Linked DNA regions of Homo sapiens: region 2 is linked to region 1. Evidence: fine-mapped expression QTL. A gene starts in region 1. The other region holds a variant in brackets. All regions are shown on one strand. Distances are between the middles of the regions.

The links. PIP is the estimated chance that this variant, and not a neighbour inherited with it, causes the effect.
Region 2: its variant is fine-mapped to the expression of SLC9A1 in whole blood (INTERVAL, PIP 0.92).

Annotation. Positions count from the first base shown.
Region 1 is chr1:27,152,797-27,158,162 of GRCh38, reverse strand. SLC9A1 (solute carrier family 9 member A1) reads left to right here and starts at 3,038. Exons shown (of 12, transcript NM_003047.5): 1 at 3,038-4,180. The coding sequence starts at 3,829. LOC102723760 (a long non-coding RNA gene) reads right to left here and starts at 602. Exons shown (of 3, transcript XR_426674.4): 1 at 537-602. RefSeq lists an enhancer at 1,644-2,143 and a silencer at 3,089-3,318.
Region 2 is chr1:27,115,511-27,120,876 of GRCh38, reverse strand. The region is part of intron 1 of SLC9A1 (solute carrier family 9 member A1); the gene reads left to right. Among named protein-coding and RNA genes, the nearest start is that of SLC9A1, 37 kb to the left of the region's middle. RefSeq lists enhancers at 1,073-1,782, 1,783-2,493, 3,204-3,915. The variant C/G (reference allele first, on the strand shown) is at 2,350.

The DNA of each region.
Region 1 (5,366 bases):
CAAGTAGCTGGGACTATAGGTATGCTCCACCACGCCCAGCTAATTTTTGTATTTTTTGGTAGAGACAGGGTTTTGCCATGTTAGCCAGGCTGGTCTTGAACTCCTGACCTCAAGTGATCTGCCTGCCTCAGCCTCCCACAGTGCTGGAATTACAGGCGTGAACCACTGTGCCTGGCCTAATTAATTTTTAGAGATGGGTCTCACTATGTTTCCCAGGCTGGAGTGCAGTGGCTATTTCACAAGCACAATCATAGTGCATTACAGCCTCAAATTCCTGGGTTCAAGTGATTCTTCTGCCTCAGCCTCCCAAGTAGCTGGGACTACAGGTGCATGCCACTGCACCTGGATATTATTATTTTATTTTACTTATTTTTTTTAAAGACAGGGTCTCCCTATGTTGCCTAGGTTGGTCTTAAACTCCTGGCCTCAACTGATACTCCCATCTCAGGCTCCTGAGTTGCGGGGATTACAGGCATGAGCCACTGCTGCTAGCTTATTATTATTTTAATATATTTTTCCATGGAAGGATAGCATACCTAGAAAAAGGTGCACACATCTTGAGTCTTCAGTGAGTTATCACGAAACAACTACGTCGCTGTAACCTTTGTAGCTATCACCCAGTAAAGAAATAGAACATTACCAGCATTCTAGAAGCCCTCATTATGTCCACTTTATGCCCCCTCCCAATTCCTACCACCTCCTTCCTCCCTCTGGCTTATCTCTGTGTTGCCAGAGCCCAGCACAAAGCCCTGTCAAGAGGCCCAGTAAACATTTGTTAAACTAAATTGAATCTCAAGTACTTGTGATGTGACCTTGAGCTAGACACTTTGACTGTTTTGGCCTTAATGTACTCTTCTGCAAAACAGGGACAGCATTTCAGTGATTTCTATACCTCCCAACCCTAGTTGTATATCAGAGCCTTTGAAAAAAATACTTTGGCACTACCCTGAAGTAATTGAATCTAAATCTCTGACGGTGGGTCCCCGAAAATGATATTTTACAAAAGATGATGATGATGATGATTACTATGATTGACAGGGTCTCCCTTTGTTGCCCAGGCTAGAGTGCTGTGGTGGATCATAGTTCACTGTAGTCTCAAACTCCTAGGTTCAAATGATACTCCTGCCTCAGCCTCCCAAGCAGCTAGGACTACCAAGCACAGCTAATTTTATCAGACAATGGTATTTATTTTTATTTATTTATTTTTTTTTGAGACAGAGTCTCGCTCTGTTGCCCAGGCTGGAGTACAGTGGTGCAATCTTGACTTACTGCAACCTCCGCCTCCTGGGTTCAAGTGATTCTCTTGCCTCAGCCTCCTGACTAGCTGGGATTACAGGCATGTGCCACCACGCCCGGCTAATTTTTTTTTTTTTTTTTTTTTTTTGAGACGGAGTCTCGTTCTGTCGCCCAGGCGGGAGTGCTGTGGCGCGATCTCCGCTCACTGCAAGCTCCGCCTTCCGGGTTCACGCCATTCTCCTGCCTCAGCCTCCCGAGTAGCTGGGACTACAGGCGCCCGCCACTGCGCCCGGCTAATTTTTTGTATTTTTAGTAGAGACCGGGTTTCACCGTGGTCTCGATCTCCTGACCTCGTGATCCGCCCGCCTCGGCCTCCCAAAGTGCTGGGATTACAGGCGTCAGCCACTACGCCCGGCCTAGACAATGGTATTTTAAAAAAGCTTTCCAGTGATTCCATTGTACAGCCATGATCCCTTGAACCTCACCAATTTCAACCAAACTATAGGTTCAAATTTAAGTTCCACTACTTAAAGCATGCCACTGTTGTGGGTTGAATTGTGTCCCGGCAAAAGAAGTTGAAGTCCTAATGCCCAGTGCCTATGAAGATGGACTAATTAGGATGCAGTCTTTGAAGATGTTCAGGTTAAGATGAGGTAATTACGTTGGATTTCTAATCCAATGACTGGTGTCCTTATAAAAAGGGGAAATCTGGCTGGGGGTTGTGGCTTACCCCTGTAATCCCAGCACTTTGGGAGGCCGAGGCGGGTGGATCACCTGAGGTCAGGAGTTCGAGACCAGCCTGACCAACATGGTGAAACCCCATCTCTACTAAAAATACAAAAATTAGCTGGACGTGGTGGTGGGTGCCAGTAATCCCAGCTACTCTGGAGGCTGAGGCAGGAGAATCGCTTGAATCCAGGAGGCAGAGGTTGCATTGAGCTGAGATGGCGCCACCGCACTCCAGCCTGGGCAACAAGAGCCAGACTCTATCTCAAAAAAAATAAAAATAAAAATAAAGTGTGGGCGGGGAATCTGGACGCAGAGACAGAGACACCAGGAGAACTCCATGGAATACCAGATAGTCCTAACAAACCACTGGAAGGTAGGAGAAAGGCATGGGACAGATTCTCCCTCATAGCTCTCAGCTGAAACCAACCCTGCCAACACCTAGATCCGACCTCCAGCCTCCAGAACTGTGAGACAATCAATTTCTGTTGTTGCAGCCACCCAGTTTGGGGTGATACTTTGTTACGGCAGCCCTAGTAAGCAATACAACTACTTGCATAGTAGCCAGGGGACTCTCTTCACCTGTTTCCTCATCTGTAAAAGTGGAATTGTAATAATGTGCCAGGGTGCATTCCAAATAGTTTACACGGATTGTCTCAGTCATTACATCATCCCTCTGACATAGTCACTATTACTGTCTCTACTTAACAGATGAGAAAGTTGTGAAACAGGTTAAGTAACTTGCTCAAGGTCACACGGTAACTAAATACATAAACTAATAATACATTCTTCACAGGATTATTCGAAAGCCCTTATGAGACTGCAGATGTGGACGTGAAATCGTTTTGTAAGTAGTCGGCATTTTACTCGCGTTAGTGAGGTTCTCTGTATATTCAGGACTTTTTTTTTTTTTTTTTTTTGTCATCTCTGACTCTCCTTCCTCTTCCTACGCGATACTTCTTTCCCTCGGCGACAGGGGCCGCTGCGCTGGGCGGGTGCCGACGGTCTCTCTAGCCCGCCGCACCGGCTGCTCGCTGGTGCCTATAAGTGACAGCGCCGGGCTCAGCTAGGCTTCAGTCTGCTGCCGCCGGGGCCGGGGCTAGGGTTAGTTCTGGAGCTGGACCAGGAGGAGCTGCAGCTGGGCCGGGGCGGAGCGCCGCGTCGCGCCAGGGCCGCGAGGAGGGGCGTGTTGCTGCTGGCCCACCGCGAGCCGCCCCCAGCCCGCGCCGAGGCGCCTTCCCGCCAGGCCGCCTGCCTTCCGCCTCTTTCCATTTCCCCGGAATCTCAGCCCGGCGCGCCTGGACCCCTGCCCCTCTCTGGGTGGAGAAGCTCCCGGCCGCTTCCCGGTTTCACTCCTTCTCAGCCTGGGCTCCCAGCCCCCTCTCTCCTTTTCCTGGACTGGCTCTCACCCCCTTCGGTCCCCTTCCTTTAGCTCAGGCTCCCTACCCCTTCCTTTAGCCCACAGCCCAGAGTCCCAGCTCCTCAGTCACTTTCCTCAGCCAAAGGTCCCAGCCTTCCTTCTTCCTTTCCTTTGCACTATCCCTATCCTGCCCCTTCCTCTATCCCTAGGGCTCAGTTTCCCACATCCGTCCTCCCCCTTCCCAGGCCCGGAGTTCCAGACCTTTTGGTCTCCTTTCGTGGTCGTTCCTGGGTCCTTGCCCCCTTTCCCCACTTTGGAGTTCCAGATTGCAAACCCAGCCTCCCTCCACCCCCAGAAAATTGCTTCCATGGAAATGCCTCTCTAAAACATGAACTTTTCCTAGAGACTACGCCAGTCTCTCTTCCCACTTGCTGACCCTTTGCTACCTATGTGCCCGGTTTTACTCTCATTTGGGTAAGGTCGAGGCTGGCTCTGGAAGCAGCACCATGGTTCTGCGGTCTGGCATCTGTGGCCTCTCTCCACATCGGATCTTCCCTTCCTTACTCGTGGTGGTTGCTTTGGTGGGGCTGCTGCCTGTTCTCAGGAGCCATGGCCTCCAGCTCAGCCCAACTGCCAGCACCATTCGAAGCTCAGAGCCACCACGAGAACGCTCGATTGGGGATGTCACCACCGCTCCACCGGAGGTCACCCCAGAGAGCCGCCCTGTTAATCATTCCGTCACTGATCATGGCATGAAGCCGCGCAAGGCCTTTCCAGTCCTGGGCATCGACTACACACACGTGCGCACCCCCTTCGAGATCTCCCTCTGGATCCTTCTGGCCTGCCTCATGAAGATAGGTAAGTCCCGTTTGCTCCGATGCTGCGGCCGCCACCAGACTGGTGAGCTTCTTGCCTCATCTCGCACCATTTGAGGCTGTCCAGGAGTAAGGATCTGAACTACCCCCATAAAGTAGGCAGTCTCCATCCTGCCACCTTGGTCCTTCTCAGGCTCCAGTTCTGTGGCTTCTGATCTGTGATCTGAGGCTTCCCAAGATTGGAGCCAGCACTGTGCACAGAAGAGAGCAGGATTAGAGAATGGGATGCCTCTGATCCTAGGTCCCTTCAGTAAGGCTTCCACGACTGGCAAGTCTCCTCTGGCTGGGCCAGACCCCCAGGGGAGCCAGGCACCCCGCTGTGTGTGAGACAGAAAGGAGTGTCTTCTGGCGAGTGGCACATTCTGCTCTGTCAACAGCAACCAGTGCAATTTATGACAGGCTTCACTGGAGCGTGTTCCAGGATGGAGTATATTTCTACTTGGCCTGCTTGAGGAGTTTAAGCATAGTGGAGACCTGGGCACAGGAAACTTACAAGTGTGGTGGAACACAGGGGATCCCCATATTCCCACCTTTCCTTCATCTCCAGAATGTTATCTGTCAGCTTTGCTTGTCCAGGCTAGTTAGGAGCCCCTGAGTCAATTTCCGGCCCAGGAATGCCATACTTTATAGAATCTGTGGGACAAGGGGCCCTGGAAATTTCTGAAGTCTGTTTTGGAAGTGGAGGGAGAGTAGAGGAGGTTGAGGCTTGGTCTGACCCCAGCTCACCCCCAGGTCGCTGCCTGGCTGTGTCTCAGGGTGCTGTCTGGCCTGCTGCTCAATCAAGTAGATGAGGTAGATGGGGGAGCCTAGGGATGTTCAGGCCTGAAGAGACTTTGAAACCTTCTTTTGGGGAGAAGGAAACAGACAACTTATTTGCTCTCAGAGTATTGGTCTCCCTGCTAGGCCTGAGCACTCTGTTCTGCTGAGTGATTGGGGGAGCTTACTGGAGCCTACATTGCCCAGAAGTCCCTGAAAGTGGTGTTCAGGGGGACTTTGACAACTGCCTTTGCATTTTCAGCTTGCCCCCAGCTGGCTGTGGAAGGCATGAGGTCCTGGGACTCTGCTGTCCCCTCTGCCTGAGATTTGGGTTTGGGAATTTGGCAGGAAACCTTCCAGCTCTCCCAAGGACATGCAGGAGCTGAGCGGTGCTGCCGGGCTGGTGTGAGGCA
Region 2 (5,366 bases), 37 kb after region 1:
CATCTGTCAAATTGGGGGTCAGGATGTGAGATGAAATGAGAGGGGGTGTGTATAAGCCCCCTGCACAGAGCCTTGCATCAGATTCTCCAAGTGTCCAGTGTTTGTCTCCTGGGTGCTGGAGAGTTTATCTTTTTTTTTTGAAATGGAATTTTGCTCTATTGCCCAGGCTGGAGTGCCATGGTGTGATCTCGGCTCACTGCAACCTCTGCCTAACAGGTTCAAGTGATTCTCCTGCCTCAGCCTCCTGAGTAGCTGTGATTAGAGGCGCCTGCCACCACACCTGGCTAATTTTTGTATTTTTCGTAGAGACGAGGTTTCGCCATGTTGGTCACTGTGGTCTAGAACTCCTGACCTCAGGTGATCCACCCGCCTCGGCCTCCCAAAGTGATGGGATTACAGACGTGAGCTGCCACCCCCAGCTGGCTGCTACATTTTAAAAAAAGTATTATTTGGCCAGGTGCGGTGGCTCACGCCTGTAATCTCAGCACTTTGGGAGGCTAAGGTGGGTGGATCACCTGAGGTCAGGAGTTTGAGACCAGCCTGGCCAACATGGCGAAACCCCTCCTCTATTAAAAATACAAAAATTAGCCAGGCGCCATGGTGGGTGCCTGTAATCCCAGCCCCTGGAGAGGTTAAGGCAGGAGAATCACTTGAACCCGGGAGGCAGACGCTGTAGTGAGCCGAAATCGCGCCACTGTACAACAAGAGTGAGACTCCGCCCCCCCAAAACAAAACAAAACAAAACAAAACAAAAAAAACCTCCCATCCCCACAGCAGAAACTCAATGAATAATACTTTTTTTTTTTGAGGTGGAGTCTTGCTCTGTCACCAGGCTGGAGTGCAGTGGTGCAATCTTGGCTCACTGCAACCTTCCCCTCCTGGCTGAGTTAACTTAGGAGAGCTTCCTGGAGAGGGCAGCCTTTGAAGATAGGAAGGATTTCATGAAGTCTTTACTAGGCCACTAGAGTAGAAGCAGTGGGAGACTTCCTGGAGAAGAGCTCATGGAAAGAAAAACCTACCGCTGGCCCTTTGGGAACTGCTTTGGGCCTCTTTAGTCCTAGGCTCACACGCCCCTTAGAAACAAAGTAAGAATAAAGCCAGGGATAATACAGTGAGTGGCCAAGAACACAGACTCTGGAGCCAGACTACCTGGGTTTGAATCCCAGTTACCAGCCATGTGACTTTGATCAAGTTGCTTAACCTTTGTGTGCTTCAGTTTCCTCATCTGTAAAATAAGGGGATGGTAATTGTGACTTCCCAGAACTATGGTGGAGAGCAAATGGGTTAAGAGTGTGCCGCTGTAAACTGTAGAGTGCTGGGCTTTCATTGGGAAGTATTACCTTTCATTGCTGCAGTTGAGACTGGTTGCTGGGGCAGTTGAAGAGGGAGTTAAAGAAATGGAATCATTGTGCAACTAGGAATCCCTTGGGACCTGGCCGAGTTGCAGCCCCAGAGCAGTCCTCAGGCCTGGAAGTAGGGCGACAGAGCCCTCAGTGTGCCCCTGGGTCCCTGGTGACCTGGCACTATGGGCCAAAGAGACCCCTCTTCCCAGCACTCCCCTCTGACTTCCCAGGCCAGAGGAGGGTTGCGGGAAGGGGGATCAGGCATGTCTGGTCACCCTGGCAACCCAGGGTGATGTCGGACAGCCTTGCCTGCTCCACTGAGCCAGTCTCAACAGATGGGGACCGTCCGAGGAGATATAAATAAAACATTCTTGTGGTGCAGAGCAGCCGCAGGGGGCTGGGAGCCTCCATCAATTGGAAGTTTGGTGAGGTGTCTGCTCAGCAAGAGTGTGTGTGTGTGTGTGTGTGTGTGTGTGTGTGTGTGTGTGTGTTCGTTCCAGCTACCACCTACACTAGATAGAATGAAAAACACTTCTCCCATCCCCCAGCCTCTTCTAAAAGGAGCGCCAACTCTGAACTGTGTCAGAGGGTTTGGCCTGTGGCTGTGCTTGGAGATGTTGAATTCCACACTTTCGTGCCTCCTTGTTCTGGGAGGACTGGACGTCCTCGAAGAAGGCTGTGTGGCTTGGAGTGTCACAGACTGCTGGGGTAGAACTGGACATGTGATCATTGACAGGTCACTGGCTGTCTCTGTCTCCATTTCCCTGACTATATAATGGAGAATTTAGATGCTCTCCAAGATCCATTCCAGCTCTTACGACTCTGGTTCTTACTCTAACTGCCTCTTCCCATCCCTGATTTCACCCTGGTGACATCACTGCTGCTGCATGTTTGGGCCCTGAAAGTTTTGCCTCATCTCTTGGCATCCTGGGATCTTGCCTCCATGCAGGGCTTTTGTCAGGGTACCAGGGGCCGCAGCCATCCTTCTGTGCCCCTTTCACCACAC[C/G]GGGTGTCAGCAAGCATCCTGCTCTTTGTGGGGACTCTGCAGGGATGCAGAGTGAGCGCAGTTGGTGGAGTCAGGGCGTTAGGAGAGGGACAAGCCAGCGCAGGTCCAGGGGCTGCTTCCCACTTCCCTGAGCCGTTGCTCCTGAAGGAGCCTCCTCTTGATGACAGAATCCCTTCCTCCCCCAGCCCTAGAAGTGCTTTCCAATAATGTGCCACCTACCCACAGGCAGGGAGCCAAAAGTGGATCTCAGACCTTTCTCCTCAGCCTGGCCCGGCCCGGCCCTCCCCTCAGGCCCAGAGAGCCCATCAGGGCCTAGAGCTCCTTCAGCTCACTGAGCGCCAGAGACAAAACAGGAAAGCCAGGGAAACCAGCTCCAGGAACATGGCTCCAGCCCCAGGTACTCTGGAGCTGGCTGAAGGAGAAGGAGGTCGCTGTGCTGTAGTCAGGAGGCCCGGGACCCAGTCCTGGTTGGCCTGGCTGAGTGCATGCAGCCTCCTCTCAGAGCTCGTTTTTCTTGTGTTCAATAGGAATGCCAGCTCTCTGTTCACCTGGTCATAGAAGCTCCAAGGGCTGGAATAGCATGGCCCTCCCCATCAGCTGCTCACGGAGGTTCAGAGTCTGAGTCACCTCAATGTTCCCAGTGTCCCATATGGCCTGGCTCAGAGAAAATACCGAGCTTTGACTAAAGAATTAATTAGCGCTCTCTGCTACCGGTTTGAGACACCTAAGCTAGAATAGAGGTCCTCCCTTAGACACTAGGGGAGTGGCATAACCTTGCTGAGCCTCAGCTTTGTCTTCTGCAAAATGGAGGCAATACCTATCCCAAGGGCTGTGGTGAGGACTGAATGAGATGGTGCGTGCCAGGCTCCCAGCACAGTTCTGGCTCATGGGACGCCCTCAGACCTGAGGAGCCGTCTTCATGTTGCTGTTCTTGGCTTGTTTCACATGCCTGCCCCCTCCCCAGGCAGGAGCTGTGGCCAACTCTTCTCTGGGTCTCCCAGGCACTGTCTGGCGATTTATGGGGCCAGGAAAGCTCTGTGGATTGGGTTGATGGCACAGAGTGAGGGTAGGAGGCATTTTTAGAGCCCGACCCCTTAGGTGGAGGTGGAAGCCATCATCTGCCTACCCTGGACTATCTCTTTAGACTCTGCCTTCTCTTAAGGCAGCTCTTGGTGCTAACGCCAGGACAGGGGCAGGGAGGCTGTGGAGGGGGGTCAGCATGCAGCTGGCTGGAGCTGGACTTCCGGCCTTGGGAAGGTGCTTTCTGGCCCCTGCCTGTAGGAGCTCTGCTCCCCTAAATCTTCATCCTGCTTATCTCCGCTGCGCTGTGCCTGTCTCCCCTCCAGCACACTGCAGGTCTTTGGGGTCTGATGCCATTGTCTTGTCTCAGCTGCTTCTGCCTGGGTTGTCTGACTGATCTCGGTGGGTGCCAGGAAGAGAGAGAGGAACCTGGGAGATGACTGTGGATTGAAGGTTATGAGAGAGGGAAGCACCAGAAGATTCCTGCCCTAACCTGAGCAGACAGGTGGTGGTCAGGGAATGCTTCCTGAAGGAGGAGGCAGGCAGAGGATATGGTGTCAGCCACATATGGTGGGGGTAGAGGTAGAGGAATGATTTCTAGAGAGAGGAACTAGACTAGGTGAAGATTGGCAGGCAAAAGAGGATGTGGCTCATATGGGGCAATTGCAAGGAATTTGGCAAGGCTGAAACCTAAGAGTTGACAGTGGGGAGAATGGGACATGAGGCAAGAGCAGATGACAGAGGCAGTGCTGAAAATGTGGGCTTTATCCTCTACAGCAAGAGAGACTTGGGTCCAACATGACTAGCCCTTCCCAGTGGACCAGCCAGCTACACACTGGATGTTGACTGGTGGACAGTACAAAGACTGGGGGACTTTTCAGCAAAAGGGGTGATTTTGGAATTATTTTCCCTTTTATTGATGTGGGAAGTAGATGAACAAAAAGTGACTTTTGGTCATGTCTATTTTGAAATCAGGAGAATGCACATGGTGCCTTCGAGGTCCTCTTGGCCTAGGATGGAGACATCTTTTTTTCCCAATGTGTTTTGAGTGTCTTCAGGGTGCTTGGCACTGTGCCAGGATTCTGGGCCTGGATAGTGTTCAGTGTGTGAACTTTTTTTTTTCAAGATGGAGTCTTGCTCTGTTGCCCAGGCTGGAGTGCAGTGGAGTGATCTTGGCTGGAGCTCAGTGGCGTGATCTCGGCTCACTGCAACTTCTACCTCCTGTGTTCAAGCAATTCTCCTGTCTCAGCCTCCCAAGTAGCTGGGAATACAAGCACCCACCACCACGCCTGGCCAATTTTTATATTTTTAGTAGAGACAGGGTTTCACCATATTGGTCAGGCTGGTCTTGAATTCCTGACCTCAGGTGATCCACCCACCTCGGCCTCCCAAAGTGCTGGGATTACAGGCGTGAGCTACCGTGCCCAGCCAGCAGTGTGAACTTTGACTTGTCACCGTACTAGCACTGCCCAGATTCCTACCTGAGAGTAGGAAGGGCTTTGGGCATGGAGAGGGAAGTTCCTCCTCTGTCCCAAGGATCTCAAGAGTAAGTAATGAGAGCAGAGGCCTGGCCAGGCATGCAGGTTATCGGAAATCTTGGGTGATGTCCCAGCCCTGTGTATTTTCAAGTCAGCTGATATTTGTTGAGCACTTCTTGTGTCCTAGCCCTGGGTGTATAATGATAAGCAGTTATGGGATCTGCCTGCACAGAGCTTGCAAGATAGGGAAGGGGAGGAGAGAGAGCTTTGCTTTCTTCTTTCTTTTTTTTTTTTGAGGCTGGGCTCAAGTGATCTTCCTGCCTCGGCCCTCCTAACTAGCTGAGACTACAGGTGCATACCATGCCCAGCTATTTTTTTTAAGTGGAGATGAGGTCTCCTATGTTGTACAAGCTGGTGTCAAATTATTGGCCTCAAGTGTTCCTCCCACCTCAGCCTCCTAAAATGCTGGGATACAGGCATGAGCCACCATGCCAGGCCAGAGAGAGCTTTCCTCTTGAG